4 linked regions of the Homo sapiens genome follow. The protein of the gene in region 2 interacts with the protein of the main gene of each other region in a pairwise test. Each region holds a gene or a part of one and is shown on either strand. Other genes may lie near its edges.

Region 1 (2,799 bases), on a different chromosome or scaffold from region 2:
GATACCACCACACTATCTAGAATGGCTACAACTAAAAAGAATGATAGGCCAGGCACGGTGGCTAATGTCTGTAATCCCAGCACTTTGGGAGGTCGAGGCGGGTGGATCACCTGAGGTCAAAAGTTCGAGACCAGCCTGGCCAACATGGCAAAACCCCGTCTCTACTGAAAATACAAAAAATTAGCCAGGCGTGGTAGCACACACCTGTAGTCCCAGCTACTTGGGAGGCTGAGGCAGGAGAATTGCTTGAACCCGAGAGGTAGAGGTTGTGGTGAGCCAGGATCGTGCCACTGCACTCCAGCCTGGGCAACACAGCGAGACTCCTTCTCAAAAAAATAAAAATAAAAAATGATAAAACTAAGGGTTGGCAGCATGTGGAAAAACTGGAGTCTTCATATGTTACTGCTGTGAATATAAAATGATACAGCCATTTTGGAATAGAGTTTAATAGTTTCTTTAAAAGTAAACATATACTGATTGTATGACCCAATAATTCCTTTCCTAGAGAAATGAAAACACATGTCCACACAAGATTTGTACACAAGTGTTCACAACCACTTACTCATAGCAGCCAGAAGCAATCCAAATGTCATCAATTGGTGAATGGATAAACAAAAACAATGGCATGTCCATAAAACTGAATATTGATCAGTAAGAATGATTAGCATGCAACATATGGAATAATCTCAAAAACATCATGCTAAGTGAAAGAAGTCACACATTAAAAAGTTCATAGTGGATGATTCCATTTATCCCATATTTCTAGAAAAGGCAAAACAGTAGCAACAGAAAGCAGATCAGTGGTTGACTGAGGTCTGCAGTAGGAACAGGAATTGACTGCAAAGAGGTACTAAGGTGATGGAAGTGTTCTAAGACTGGTGGTAATGGTTTATGTAAAAACTTACCATCATAAATCAAACTCCACAGCCAAAAACAGGTGAATCATATGACATGTAAACTATACATCAGTAAAGTTGGTAAAAACAAGTAACGAACTCCTAGGTACAATGAACCCTCCTTCCCACAGCACTACTTCCCACAGTGGTTTGTACAAACCAATTTCACTCTATTGTTTTTTAATGAGTTTACCTGTTATTTCTTCTCTGAAGGTGCTTAGGTTCTGCAGGGTGGGGCTCTGCTCTCCCTTATATAGAACAGATCCTATATTTTTCTTTGGGGACATTTTTTAAAGTTCTGAGAGAGAGAAGATGTTCATTTTGATGCTACTTTAAGCAAGCTTTCAGTCTATTTTTTTTTTTTTTTTTTTTTTTGAGATGGAGTCTCGCTTGTCACCCAGGCTGCAGTGCAGTGGCGCAGTCTCGCTCACTGCAAGCTCCACCTCCCGGGTTCACGCCATTCTCCTGCCTCAGCCTCCCGAGTAGCTGGGACTACAGGCGCTCGCCACCACGCCTGGCTAATTTTTTGTATTTTTTTAGTAGAGACGGGATTTCACTGTGTTAGCCAGGATGGTCTCGATCTCCTGATCTTGTGATCCACCCACCTCGGCCTCCCAAAGTGCTGGGATTACAGGCGTGAGCCACCGCGCCTGGTGCTTTCAGTCTATTTTTAACACATCTTAGGCAGAACTGAAGTAACTTTTTGTTTATTTTGTTTCATTAGGTTTTCAACCAGATGAAGAAATGAATGAAATCTGCAAGACTGAATTTCAAATGCGATTGCTATGGGGCAGCAAAGGTGCACAAGTCAATCAGACAGAGAGATATGAGAAATTCAACCAGATTTTAACTGCCCTCTCGCGTAAATTGGAACCTCCTCCTGTAAAGCAGGCAGAGCTTTGATAACTCTCCAGAGAACCTTTAGAATATCTTTTCAAGTTTCCCCAGCTTCATCTTTGGGAAAGCTTACTGTTTTTGATAAAGTAATAATGTGCAAATCTGACAATATACAAGCTTTTAGTATCCACAGGATATTAAACGTGTAAATTGCACAGAGCACACTTATTTATGAATTGTCTAAAGTTACTACTGATTTTAAAATGAATAATTTATTATTAAGGTAACTACTGCTAATGTTGATCAGCAAATTTAAGAGAAGACCTAGCTATGTTGGCTGGTTGCTTTCTATTATCATGGTATTTGACCATTTTAGTTTTAATTCCATGTCAGATAAGTGTAAATAGAAGAGTTTAAAAGCATGAAACATTTCAGAAGGTATCAGTTATATGATATTCTTTAAACAAATATGAAAAATGTAAATACTCATGAATGAAAATACATCTTTTTGTGAAACAGTTGTATCCAGTCTCTTTCATATTAAACAACTCATCTTGGTACAATAACTCTACCTCTTAGCTACCTCAAGCATGCTCTTCCCTAGGTACCGTATCCTGATAGTAAACCAAAATGAATGAAAGTGGTATGAAAAATTTAATGTTCCTGGATTAAAAGGCAGAGTGATTGATAGTGACACAAGGTAGAAACAGCTCGAGAGGACCTGGGTTCAAACTCAAGCTATGGTACTTGCTACCAGCTGGAGTTAGGCCAAGTTTACCTCATTGAATTCCATGTGCAGCATGGACACCCAGTATGATGAACATAACATCATCTCTTCACATATTTCAGAGTAATCAACTGTTTTACCTTTTCCTCTAGCTGATAAGTACAACAATGAGTTTCCTAGGTTGGCTTTCTAGGTTTCTCATTTTGCAAAGGGGATACTTTCTAGTTTCTTTCTAGTTTAGCAATATCCCTCTCAACTTTCCCTATTGTACAAAATTTGGAATATAAGACTTTAACGTATTCTGTTACTCTGCCATCAACTGTCAAACTTCTTTTAATA
Region 2 (3,500 bases):
CGTCCTGATATTTTTAAATCCTTTTAGAATTACACAAATGCATGATAACTGTAAATGTATTCAAATTTTATAGGAGTATATAATATAGTGATTAAACATGACTTTTCCAGAAGCTTAGGAAGGAAGGGAGAAATTAGGACAATTTTATGATGATTTTATTCTCAGTTTTCAAAACAGGAAAATGGGCTCAAGGTCGTAGCTGCCTGAGGTAGTTCCGACAAGGCCAACAGTCAAGCAAGAATACATCTGTGCCCAAGCCTCGTCCTCCTTTTAATTAAGCCCAAGGGAATATTGTACTTTTTTGCAGCAAGCCTAGCAGAGCATCCAGGTATTTGGAATGGCTCCGTAATGTCATTACTGATTTTCTGTCTTACAAAATCCTCGGCCCACTGTAGAGGCCTTCCGCTCCTTGGAAGGACCGTGCCTTCACTTCCTTCTTACCTATACCTGTCAACACACCTGCACAGATTTGGAACAAGGCGCAGTTCCCCAGGAGCACATGCCAGGCTCTCTCCTGTCTGGAACAGCTCGACTCTTTCCTGCCCAACTAACCCTGCCACCAGTATAAATCAGACACCCCATTTGTCCTTCTATACTTGGCTCAAGGCCACCTCTGTGCATCTTTCATAATCCACGTGTCCAGGTGGCCGTGGACACTCCTTCCTCCATGTTCCTCCCTCTGTGGGTACCTGCATCCTAACACATGTGCATCGCTGTGCCTATTCACGCCTGCCTGTTCCGTAATACTATCCTCTCCTCCTTCAGAGAGGGTGTCCGTCAGGCATCACAGCCCTGCAGCTAGCACCTACAAGGCAACTCCCCGTGTTCAGGAGCTTGGGAAGGGAGAGAGAACGTGATGGTGGGTCATGTGTCCTCCTAATACTCACCTTGTGAGGCCGGTGCTTCTCATGAACATGAAGAATGTGGATCCGAAGCCGGTCCCGCTTCTCAAAGGATCGTTTGCAGAGAGAACAGGGAAATTTCCTATCGCCCTTGTCCACACAGGGGGTGTACTTGAGGTGCTTATCTCTGTAATATTTGTAGGTAAATACCTTCCCACATCTTTCACATCTGTAGCCTTCTGCAGACTCTGTCAAACACAGCAAACACAATGTCTCTTCAGTTACTTCCCTCCCTAGTTCCTTCAAGAGGATATTTATTTATTTATTTATTTTTAGCCAAGAATTCTTTGGCTACTTCAAGAGGAATTTTCTTTTTTTGAGACAGAATCTTGCTGTATTGCCCAGTCTGTAGTGCAGTGGCACGATCTTGGCTCACTGCAACCTCTGCCTCCCAGGTTCAAGCGATTCTCCTGCCTCAGCCTCCCAAGTAGCTGGGATTACAGGTGCCCACTACCACGCCTGGCTAATTTTTGTATTTTTAGTAGAAACAGGGTTTCATCATGTTGGCCAGGCTGGTCTAGAACTCCTGACCTCAGGTGATCAGCCCCTCTTGGCCTCCCAAAGTGCTAGGATTACATGCGTGAGCCACTGTGCCTGGTCAAGAGAATTTTCTTTTCTTTTCTTTTTTTTTTTTTGAGATGGAGTCTTGCTCTGTCACCCAGGCTGGAGTGCAGGGGTGTGATCTCGGCTCACTGCAACCTCCACCTCCCGGGTTCAAGTGATTCTCCTGCCTCAGCCTCCCAAGTAGCTGGGACTACAGGCACACACCACCACGCCCAGCTAATTTTTGTATTTTTAGTAGAGGTGGGGTTTCACCATCTTGGCCAGGACAGTCTTGATCTCTTGATCTTGTGATCCACCTGCCTCGGCCTCCCAAAGTGCTGGGATTACAGGCATGAGCCACCATGCCCGGCCGCCAAGAGAATTTTTAAAAACCTTTTTATTACAGAAAAATGTAAACATACCAAAGTGAAAATAATAGTGTAATAAACCCTCATGTGCCAAACACCAAGCTTTGACCAACTCGTAACTAATTTTGTTTTCATTTATATCACCGCTCGCCATAGTAGATTATTTTAATACTAATTCATCCTTTGACTCAAAAACATCTAACCGTAATCTTTAGAAGATGACATATTTTTAAAAAGCATAATTGTGACCAGGCAAAGTGGCTCACGCCTATAATCCCAGCACTTTGGGAAGCTGAGGCAGGTGGATCACCTGAGGTCAGGGGTTCAAAACCAGCCTGGCCAACATGGTGAAATCCCGTCTGTACTAAAAATACAAAATTAGCCAGGCGTGGTGGTGCCTGCCTGTAATCCCAGCTACTTGGGAGGCTGAGGCAGGAGAATCACTTGAACCTGGGAGGCGCAGGTTGCAGTGAGCCAAGATTGCACCACTGCACTCCAGCCTGGGCAACAACAGCAAAACTCCATCTCAAAAAAAAAAAAAAAAGCATAATTGTGCCAGGTGCAGTGGCTCACGCCTATAATCCCAACACTCTGGGAAGCTGAAGTGGACAGATCGCTTGAGCCCAGGAGTTTGAGACCAGCCTGGGCAACATAGTAAGACCCCATCTCTACAAAAAAATAATAAAAATTATCTGGGCATGATAGCACACGCCTTTAGTCCCAGAGGCCGAGATGGGAGGATCACCTGAGCCTGGGGAAGTTAGTTGAGGCTGCAATGAGCAGTGATTGAGCCACTGCACTCCAGCCTGGGCAACAGAGCAACACTTTGTCTCGAAAAAAAAAAAAAAACATAACCATAATGTCATTGTCACATTGTCATACCTAAACGATTAACTCTTATTCTTTTATAGAAACATATATGTACTTATATATGCACATTTATATACACACATATATATTTGTTTAATTACTTTCTGGTCAGTCCATTCAAATTAGGCTTCAAACAAAGTCTACATGTTGTATATGGTTGCTATGTCTCTTAAATATCTTAACCTATAGGCTCTCTTTCCCTTTTGTTCCTTGATATGTACTGTTGAAGAGACCATTCCACCAGCCCCATTTAAGGGCAGTGCAACCCTGCAGCTCTTGAACACATTCCTGCCTGGCACTTGTTACAAGGTTAATACACTGAGGCACTGAGGCCGACCTATTTCTCTTTGTGCCTTTAAGATCAGCCTGAGTTACAAGCTCAGAGCAGTCACCAGGACACCCGCAGCTCACAGTGCTGTTCTATTCTACACAATTCAAGGGACCTTCTTAGTTTATACTTCATTACTCAAAACTTGTGGCAGATTCCAGAGCTAGAATCTTTATGTATAGAGTAAGGTTGAAAGCATCTTGACTTCCCTAATGCACAGGGTTACCGTGATGACTAATTTAATTCTAACACTTACCGAGTCTTACCAATGTGAGTGATACTATCACTGAATGGCAGACAAGACTGAGAGGTAAATCTGTTTTTATCAATGGAGGAGGGAGGAGGAGAGAAGTTAGAGAGGGTGCAGCTAGACTCTAGCAAAGCAGGTCCCACGTCCAGGGGTGTCTATGTGTTGGGGGAAGGCGAGAGAACAGGGGCCACCTACAAAAGCATCCCTGCAGAGGACACTCTGGATCCCAGAGGATAAAG
Region 3 (3,500 bases), on a different chromosome or scaffold from region 2:
TCTGTATTACCGCTGTGCTCCTGCTAGGGGTTGGGGCTGCCATTTTTAAATGCTGACCTCATCTGGAACTGCCAAGAGTTGGAAGTATGTTGTGGCTTTGCTGGGTTAATCTTTAGTTTTAGAATTAGCCACGGCATTGGGCAGGTTTTTCTGATAGATGTCTGGTCTTCTGTAATGAGCAGTTCCATTCAGCACAGACATGCCCCTTTCTATGAATTTTTTTTTGGTTTGTGTATTAGTCTGTTCTCACACTGCTATAAAGAACTGCCCAAGACTGGGTAATTTACAAAGAAAAGAGGTTTAACTGACTCACAGCTGCACATGGCTGGGGAGGCCTCAGGAAACTTATAATCATGGTGGAAGGGGAAGAAGGCATGTCTTAATGGCAGCAGGTGAGAGAGCTTGTGAAGGAAGTGAAGGGCGAAGATCCTCTTATGAAACTGTCAGATCTGGTGAGAACTCACTCACTATCACGAGAATAGCCTGGGGGAAACTGCCCCCATGAGCCAATCACCTCTCAACAGGTCCCTTTCTCAACACCTGGGGATTACAATTTGAGATGAGATTTGGGTAGGGACACAAAGCCAAACTGTATCAATCCGTTTTCTGTGGAGATGGGGGACAGAACTGGTAGCTTGAGCTAGAGGCTGTTACTTGAGCTAAATGCTGTTTCTCTGGGGATTACTGGTCCAGGAACTCCTTGGGCAGTCCAGCCTCCGACCCGTACTTCTGGGACTCTGGGAAGACTGTCCCTGTTCTCTGTTCCAATCCTCTACACCTAACAGTTTTGCTCAGGCCAGCTCAGGTTGAGAACAACAAAAACTTAAAACAAACAAACAAACAAACAAAAAAAGACATATATGTGTTTGGATGTTGCCCTGGAAACTACAGTCTCCCCAGAAGAAATCTGTCAGATGATTTAGCATTTAATAGACCACACAGATTTGAAACAGTGGGACCCTGGAGGAAAGGGGTTTGGAAACAAAGGGTGCCTTTGCATGTGGGGATTTTAATTTTGATGAAAAAGAGAAACATGTCTTTTGGCTCTTTTCATGTGTCCTAATAGGGAAACTCTTGGGTCTAAATGTAGAGGTACAGGAGCTGTGTTCATCTCTAACAAAAAATAGAGCTGGCCAGTTGAGCCTGGGAACAGGGTTTGCATCTGCCTGAAATTTATGAGCAAGCATAGCCTATCTTTCTTGTACTTTTTTGTGTCAAAGAAAACTTATTAACAACCAAGGAGAAGGTGAAGTTCAACTCTGTTGCAGGATCTCCCTGGAATACTCTTTTAGCCACCTTTTGTTTTTGCAGTGAAAGGAGGAATGAGCATTGAATGAAGACAAGGATGAAGACTGACCATCTAAAACATCTGTTAGTGATAGTTTGGGTTTTATTTTGGGAAAATTCAGTGTTTTTGAAAAAACCAAATGGTTTTGTGGGTCTGTCGCTGAACTGAGTGTTGGGAATGTGGATTCTGGTCTCTGTTTTGTCATTAACAGAGTGCCCAGTTTTGGGAGCATCCCTTACATCTACTCTCTGCCTCATATTTACTGCCTGAAATAGAGGATTTCTTCTGTTTACTTTCAAGGGATATTACAATTTAATTTTTATTTTATTTACTGTTGGAGACAAGGTCTTCTTCTGTTGCCTAAACTGGAGTGCACTGGTGCAATTATAGCTCACTGCAGCCTTGATCTCCTGGCCTTAAGGGATCCTCCCGCCTCAGCCTCACAAAGTGCTTGGATAATAGGCACGAGCCACTGTTCCTGGCTAATTTAATATTTTGGAATAATTGTAGACATCATGAAGAAAATCAATGTTTATTTATTTATTTCCTTTTTTGAGATGGAGTCTTGCTTTTGTCTACCAGGCTGGAGTGCAATGGTGTGATCTCAGCTCACTGCAACCTCTACCTCTGGGTTCAAGTGATTCTCCTGCATCAGCCTCCCAAGTGGCTGGGATTACAGGTGCCTGCCACCATCCCAGCTCATTTTTGTATTTTTAGTAGAGATGGGGTTTCACCATGTTGGTCAGACTGGTCTCGAACTCCTGACCTCAGGTTATCTACCCACCTTGGCCTCCCAAAGTGCTGGGATTCCAGGCATGAGCCACTGTGCCTGACCTGATTACTTGTTTTAAATACAGGCCTGATTAGGCTTGTGACCACTCTGTTTGGCTTCACTGAAGGGCTGCCAAGAGATGGACTTTTGAGAGTGACACTGCAAGATAATTGAGATCCTAAGTAAGGCCGTGAGAGGGTGCGGAGTAGAATCCAGATGAGCTTGCTGCTGTCAAATGGCAATGGGGAGCTACACTGAGAAACTCAAAACAGAGTGACCTCAAGTGATCTGCCCTGCCTTGGCCTCCCAAAGTGCTGGGATTACAGGCGTGAGCCACTGTGCCTGGTCCTTCTTTCCTTCTTTCTTTCTTCCTCCTTCCTTCCCCCTCCCCTCTCCTCCATTCCTTTCCCCTCCCTTCTTTCGTCCCCCCTCCCCTTTTTCCTTCCTTGCTTCTTTCCTTTCTTCCTTCCTCAGGGTCTTGCTCTCTCACCTAGGCTGGAGTGCAGTGGCATGATCACTGCACCATGACTTTCAGGCTCAAGTGATCCTCCTGCCCCAGCCTCCCAAGTAGCTGAGACTACAGGTGCATGCCACCATGTCTGGCTAATTTAAATTTTTTTTTTTTTTTTTTTGGAGACAGTGTTGTACTCTTTTGCCCAGGCTGGAGTGCAGTGGTGTGATCCTGGCTTACTGCAACCTCCGCCTCTTGAGTTCAAGCGATTCTCCTGCCTCAGCCTCCTGAGTAGCTGGGATTACAGGCGTGCACTACCATGCCCTGCTTATTTTGTATTTTTAGTAGAGAAGGGGTTTCACCATGTTAGCCAGGCTGATCTCAAACTTCCGACCTCAGGCGATTCGCCTGCCTTGGCCTCCCAAAGTGCTGGGATTACAGGCGTGAGCCTCCGTGCCTGGCCTAATTTTTAATTTTTTTTGTAGTGACGAAGTCCCACTATGTTGCCCAGGCTGGTCTCAAATTCCTGGCCTCAAGCAATTCTCCCACCTTGGCCTCCCAAAGTGCTGGGATTATAGGCATGAGCCACCATGCCCAACCTAGTGTTGTAAAATTTCCATATCCATCAAATTGCCAAATGGTGGAGGACTTTACTGTATCCTCTCCCTTTCCCCACTGTGGTATGCTTGGCTCAGTGGGAGGAGGGGCTGGAGTTGGGTGGGAAAGTACATGAGGCACTGGAATCAGATAACTCTGGGTCTGTATTCTGCACATGCCACCTGTGAGTGGCTGAGCTGGGCTTCTGGCCAGCACTCAAAGGCCACATTCCTAGTTATGGATGTTCCTTTCACCTTGCTGAAGATGGGGAGAGCTGCACCAGACCACCTCTCAGGGTTTCCTAATGCAAATCCTCGAACCCTGCAGAAGTGAGCATCCAGAGAGGTGGGAGCTACTCGCATACACACTGTCTGTGCCCTCCTCATCTCCTG
Region 4 (3,500 bases), on a different chromosome or scaffold from region 2:
AAAGTTTAAATTGTCCTTATGAGATGCACATATTTAAACATCTCAGAAGGGTGATGTAAACTTTGAGAAGAAATGTTTCTAGATAGACATTTCGGAAGTGCTGAGAGTTCAAAGAATCAATAGGGAACTAGATTCTTTTTTTTTTTTCCTTTTTTTTTGAGACAGAGTCTCACTCTGCTGCCCAGGCTGGAGTGCAGTGGCATGACCTCAGCTCACTGTAACCTCTGCCTCCTGGGTTCAAGCGATTCTCCTGCCTCAGCCTCCCAAGTAGCTGGGATTACAGGCATCCACCACCAAACCCGGCTAATTTTTTGTATTTTTAGTAGAGACGGGGTATCACCATTTTGGCCAGGGTGGTCTTGAACGCCTGACCTAAGGTGATCCACCCACCTTTGCCTCCCAAAGTGCTAGGATTACAGCTGTGAGCCACCGCACCCAGCCAGGTAGATTCTTTACTACTGGATTTGCTATTTTACTTCAGCATGTGTGCACACTTTACCGTAGCTAAACCCAGCTGTGGCTGGTAAACAACTGCCCATCAGCCCAACTGGATATCGGAGACGAGTCATGAGACCTAAGGAGAAAGAGAAATCAATATTTCAAGCCTAGTTGCTAATATAGAAGAAAGAATGAAATATTCTAGAAGACAGTACCATTCTTTAAATAATTAGACAAACAAAATTCATTCTACCAGTTAGTCAGCAGTTTGCTTATTTTCCCACATTTTCCAAAAAAAAATATATACTCATTGTATACAATTTAAAGAATCTAAGGAAGTATAAAGATGACCCTAAAAAATCCCTCACAAAATCTTAGTATTCACAGATAGATTGTTATCATCTTGGTGAATATTTTTGCAAAAATCACTATGTGCATAATTGAAAACATGAACACATCCAATATATTTTGCAGAAATATAAATATTTTGTTAAAAGCTTTTTGCACTATGCACGTAATTGATATATGTCATTGACTATAAACAGAGCTTAAATTTATTTCCAAGATTTCGCTATTATAAAATATGCCATATGTCCTTGAACATACATTTGTCTGTACTTCTCAAATTATCACCTTATAAAATGTGATTTCCAGGTCAAAGCGTGTCCAGAAAGGATGTACTAATTTATTCAACCACCAACGGTGTTGAAGTGTGCCCATTTTGTATAATCTTTGTTTATTTGATTTTTAATAGCATGGTAGAGTAAATGAGACTTCATTTAATTGGGTTAACATATAGATTTCTATACATCAAATGTCTCTTTTTTTCCTTTCAGTGACCCACTTAGGCATATACCTTACGTTTCAACTTAGTTTAATAATCATTTATTATTTATTTGTTCAGCTAATATTTATTAAAAGCCTGGTATGCGCTTTCAATAAAAGCTTTCAATAAAACACTATCTAGATGTTGGGAGACAGTAGGGAACAAGACTGATGATTCGGTCTTGCTCTCATGATTACATTCTAGTGAGAGGAAGAGAAAATAACAAGGGCATGCACACACAAGAAAAAGTAGATAATGATGATTAAGTGCAAGGCAGACCGGATAACATATAATTACTTTAGAGTGGGTGCTCAGGGAAGGCCTTTCAGACAAGATGACAGCTACGCTGACGTTGATTGATGAAGAGCCTTCCAGGTAGATGGAACAGCATGTGTAAATGCTGGAAGACAGAAACGAGCTTGACCAGTGTAAGAACAAAAAGAAGCACATATTAAGTGCCTATTGTGTGCAAGGCACTCTTCTAGGTAGATTCCCAAAGATTCCAGCAGATTCCAAGATGAGTAAGATGAGGACTCTGCCCACAGGGAGCTCTATCTCAGTGAGAGAAGACAGGCAGAGAGAGGCCATTCTAATGTGAAAGGAATAAGTATTCTGCTGGAGATGCATATAGGGTGCCTTGGGATGTAGAAAAAGAGCACTTGACACATTGTTGGACTCGAAGAATTCTTTGGGAGGAAATGACTGAGATGAAACTAACACATGGAGTTAACCCATGGGGAGAAACTATGAAGGACTTTCTAAGCAGAGGTAACGCATGAGATGAAACTTAGAAATGTGAAGCATGATGGTGGGTACTTGAGCAAAACTCAGGAGGTAGAGCCAGACAAATTGCACTGCAGAGGTAAGCAGTATTCTGGGTATGATGGGACTCATAAGCCACGCTAGGAAGCATTACATTTTCCTGCAGGTGAGAGGAAGCTATTGAAAAGTCCCAAGTAGGAGGGCACAGTCAGATTTACATTTCTTTTTCTTTTCTTTTTTTTTTTTGAGATGGAGTTTCACTCTTGTTGCCCAGGCTGGAGTGCAATGGTGTGATCTTGGATCACTGCAACCTCCGCCTCTCAGGTTCAAGCGATTCTCCTGCCTCAGCCTCTCGAGTAGGTGAGATTACAGGCATGCGCCACCATGACTGGATAATTTTGTATTTTTAGTAGAGATGGGGTTTCACCATGTTGGCCAGGCTGGTCTTAAACTCCTGACCTCAGGTGATCCACCCACCTTGGCCTCCCAAAGTGTTGTAATTACAGGCATGAGCCACTGCACCCAGCCAGATTTACATTTCTGATAGATCACTCTGGTACTAGCAGAATGGATTAAGGGGAAATCAACATTGGAGGCAATAAGACCAGTTAAGAGGCTACTGCAGTTGTCCAAGTGAGCAATGATCAGGGCAGCACTAGAAGGTAGGGAGAGGCAGGGATCTATAGGAGACACATTTAGGATATGAAATCAATTGCATTTGATAATTAATCAGAAGTGAGCTATTAAGAAGCATCTATTTAATTCCTATGCTTCCAACCCCTACAAGGGGCTGGATGATGCTAGTATTATCTGAGAGAGAGAAAAGAAAGAGGACATTTGGAGGGAGAGTAATGGTGTAAGATGAAGCATCCTACTTCATCAGTGAAGTTCAGGGCCTGCGGGATTGCAAGTGCCTTTGTCTACCAGACAGAAGATTATGCAAAGGGAGATGCCTAAGGTGAGAAGAGTAGTGATCAGGGACGGATTCTGGAGGAAAACCAATATTTAAGGGAAGAATAGAAGTAGGGCACATTGGGAAGATCCATTAGGAACTATTGAGTTAGAGAAGGCCAAAAAGGGGTGGTGTCAAACATCGAAGGAGCAACAAGTGACACTGCCAAATGTAGCAGAGAGGACCTGAACACATGAGAACTAGAAAGCACCACTGTACTGTCAATATAGGGGCCACTGGTCAAATATGGAGTGTTGAAAGCAGAAGACAGATCATAGATGTTTAAAAAGTAAATGGAAAGTGAGAGAGTGGAGACAATGGATGTGGACACATTTTTCCAAAAGTGTGACTTACAAGAGCAATGTGTAAAGGGAGAAAGAGTTAGGGCAGCAGGAGGAGAGTTGTTTTTGTTTTTAGGATAAGAAAGTCTTAAGCATGTTTATAGGGTTAAAAGCTAAAGGGAGACAGTCAGAAGAATGGAAGAGATACAGGAGAGAAAGGAACAGTGGATGGCAGGTAAGG

The links. Proteins that work in one complex are often made in the same cells at the same time.
Region 1: the proteins of PRDM14 (region 2) and BCAR3 interact in a two-hybrid assay, tested with the Homo sapiens proteins (one large-scale study listed by BioGRID and IntAct).
Region 3: the proteins of PRDM14 (region 2) and CHEK2 interact in a two-hybrid assay, tested with the Homo sapiens proteins (one large-scale study listed by BioGRID and IntAct).
Region 4: the proteins of PRDM14 (region 2) and TXK interact in binary tests that used the Homo sapiens proteins (3 or more experiments, as listed by UniProt).

What each region holds. Positions count from the first base shown.
Region 1 is NC_000001.11:93,561,241-93,564,039, reverse strand, and holds the end of BCAR3 (breast cancer anti-estrogen resistance protein 3), read left to right. Parts: intron 1-1,620; coding exon 1,621-1,799; 3' UTR 1,800-2,299; downstream 2,300-2,799. UniProt on the Homo sapiens protein: Acts as an adapter protein downstream of several growth factor receptors to promote cell proliferation, migration, and redistribution of actin fibers.
Region 2 is NC_000008.11:70,057,753-70,061,252, forward strand, and holds part of PRDM14 (PR domain zinc finger protein 14), read right to left. Parts: intron 1,091-3,500; coding exon 888-1,090; intron 1-887. UniProt on the Homo sapiens protein: Transcription factor that has both positive and negative roles on transcription. Required for the maintenance of embryonic stem cell identity and the reacquisition of pluripotency in somatic cells.
Region 3 is NC_000022.11:28,689,821-28,693,320, reverse strand, and holds part of CHEK2 (serine/threonine-protein kinase Chk2), read left to right. Parts: intron 1-3,500. UniProt on the Homo sapiens protein: Serine/threonine-protein kinase which is required for checkpoint-mediated cell cycle arrest, activation of DNA repair and apoptosis in response to the presence of DNA double-strand breaks.
Region 4 is NC_000004.12:48,089,251-48,092,750, forward strand, and holds part of TXK (tyrosine-protein kinase TXK), read right to left. Parts: intron 575-3,500; coding exon 500-574; exon of another isoform or gene 391-499; intron 1-390. UniProt on the Homo sapiens protein: Non-receptor tyrosine kinase that plays a redundant role with ITK in regulation of the adaptive immune response. Regulates the development, function and differentiation of conventional T-cells and nonconventional NKT-cells.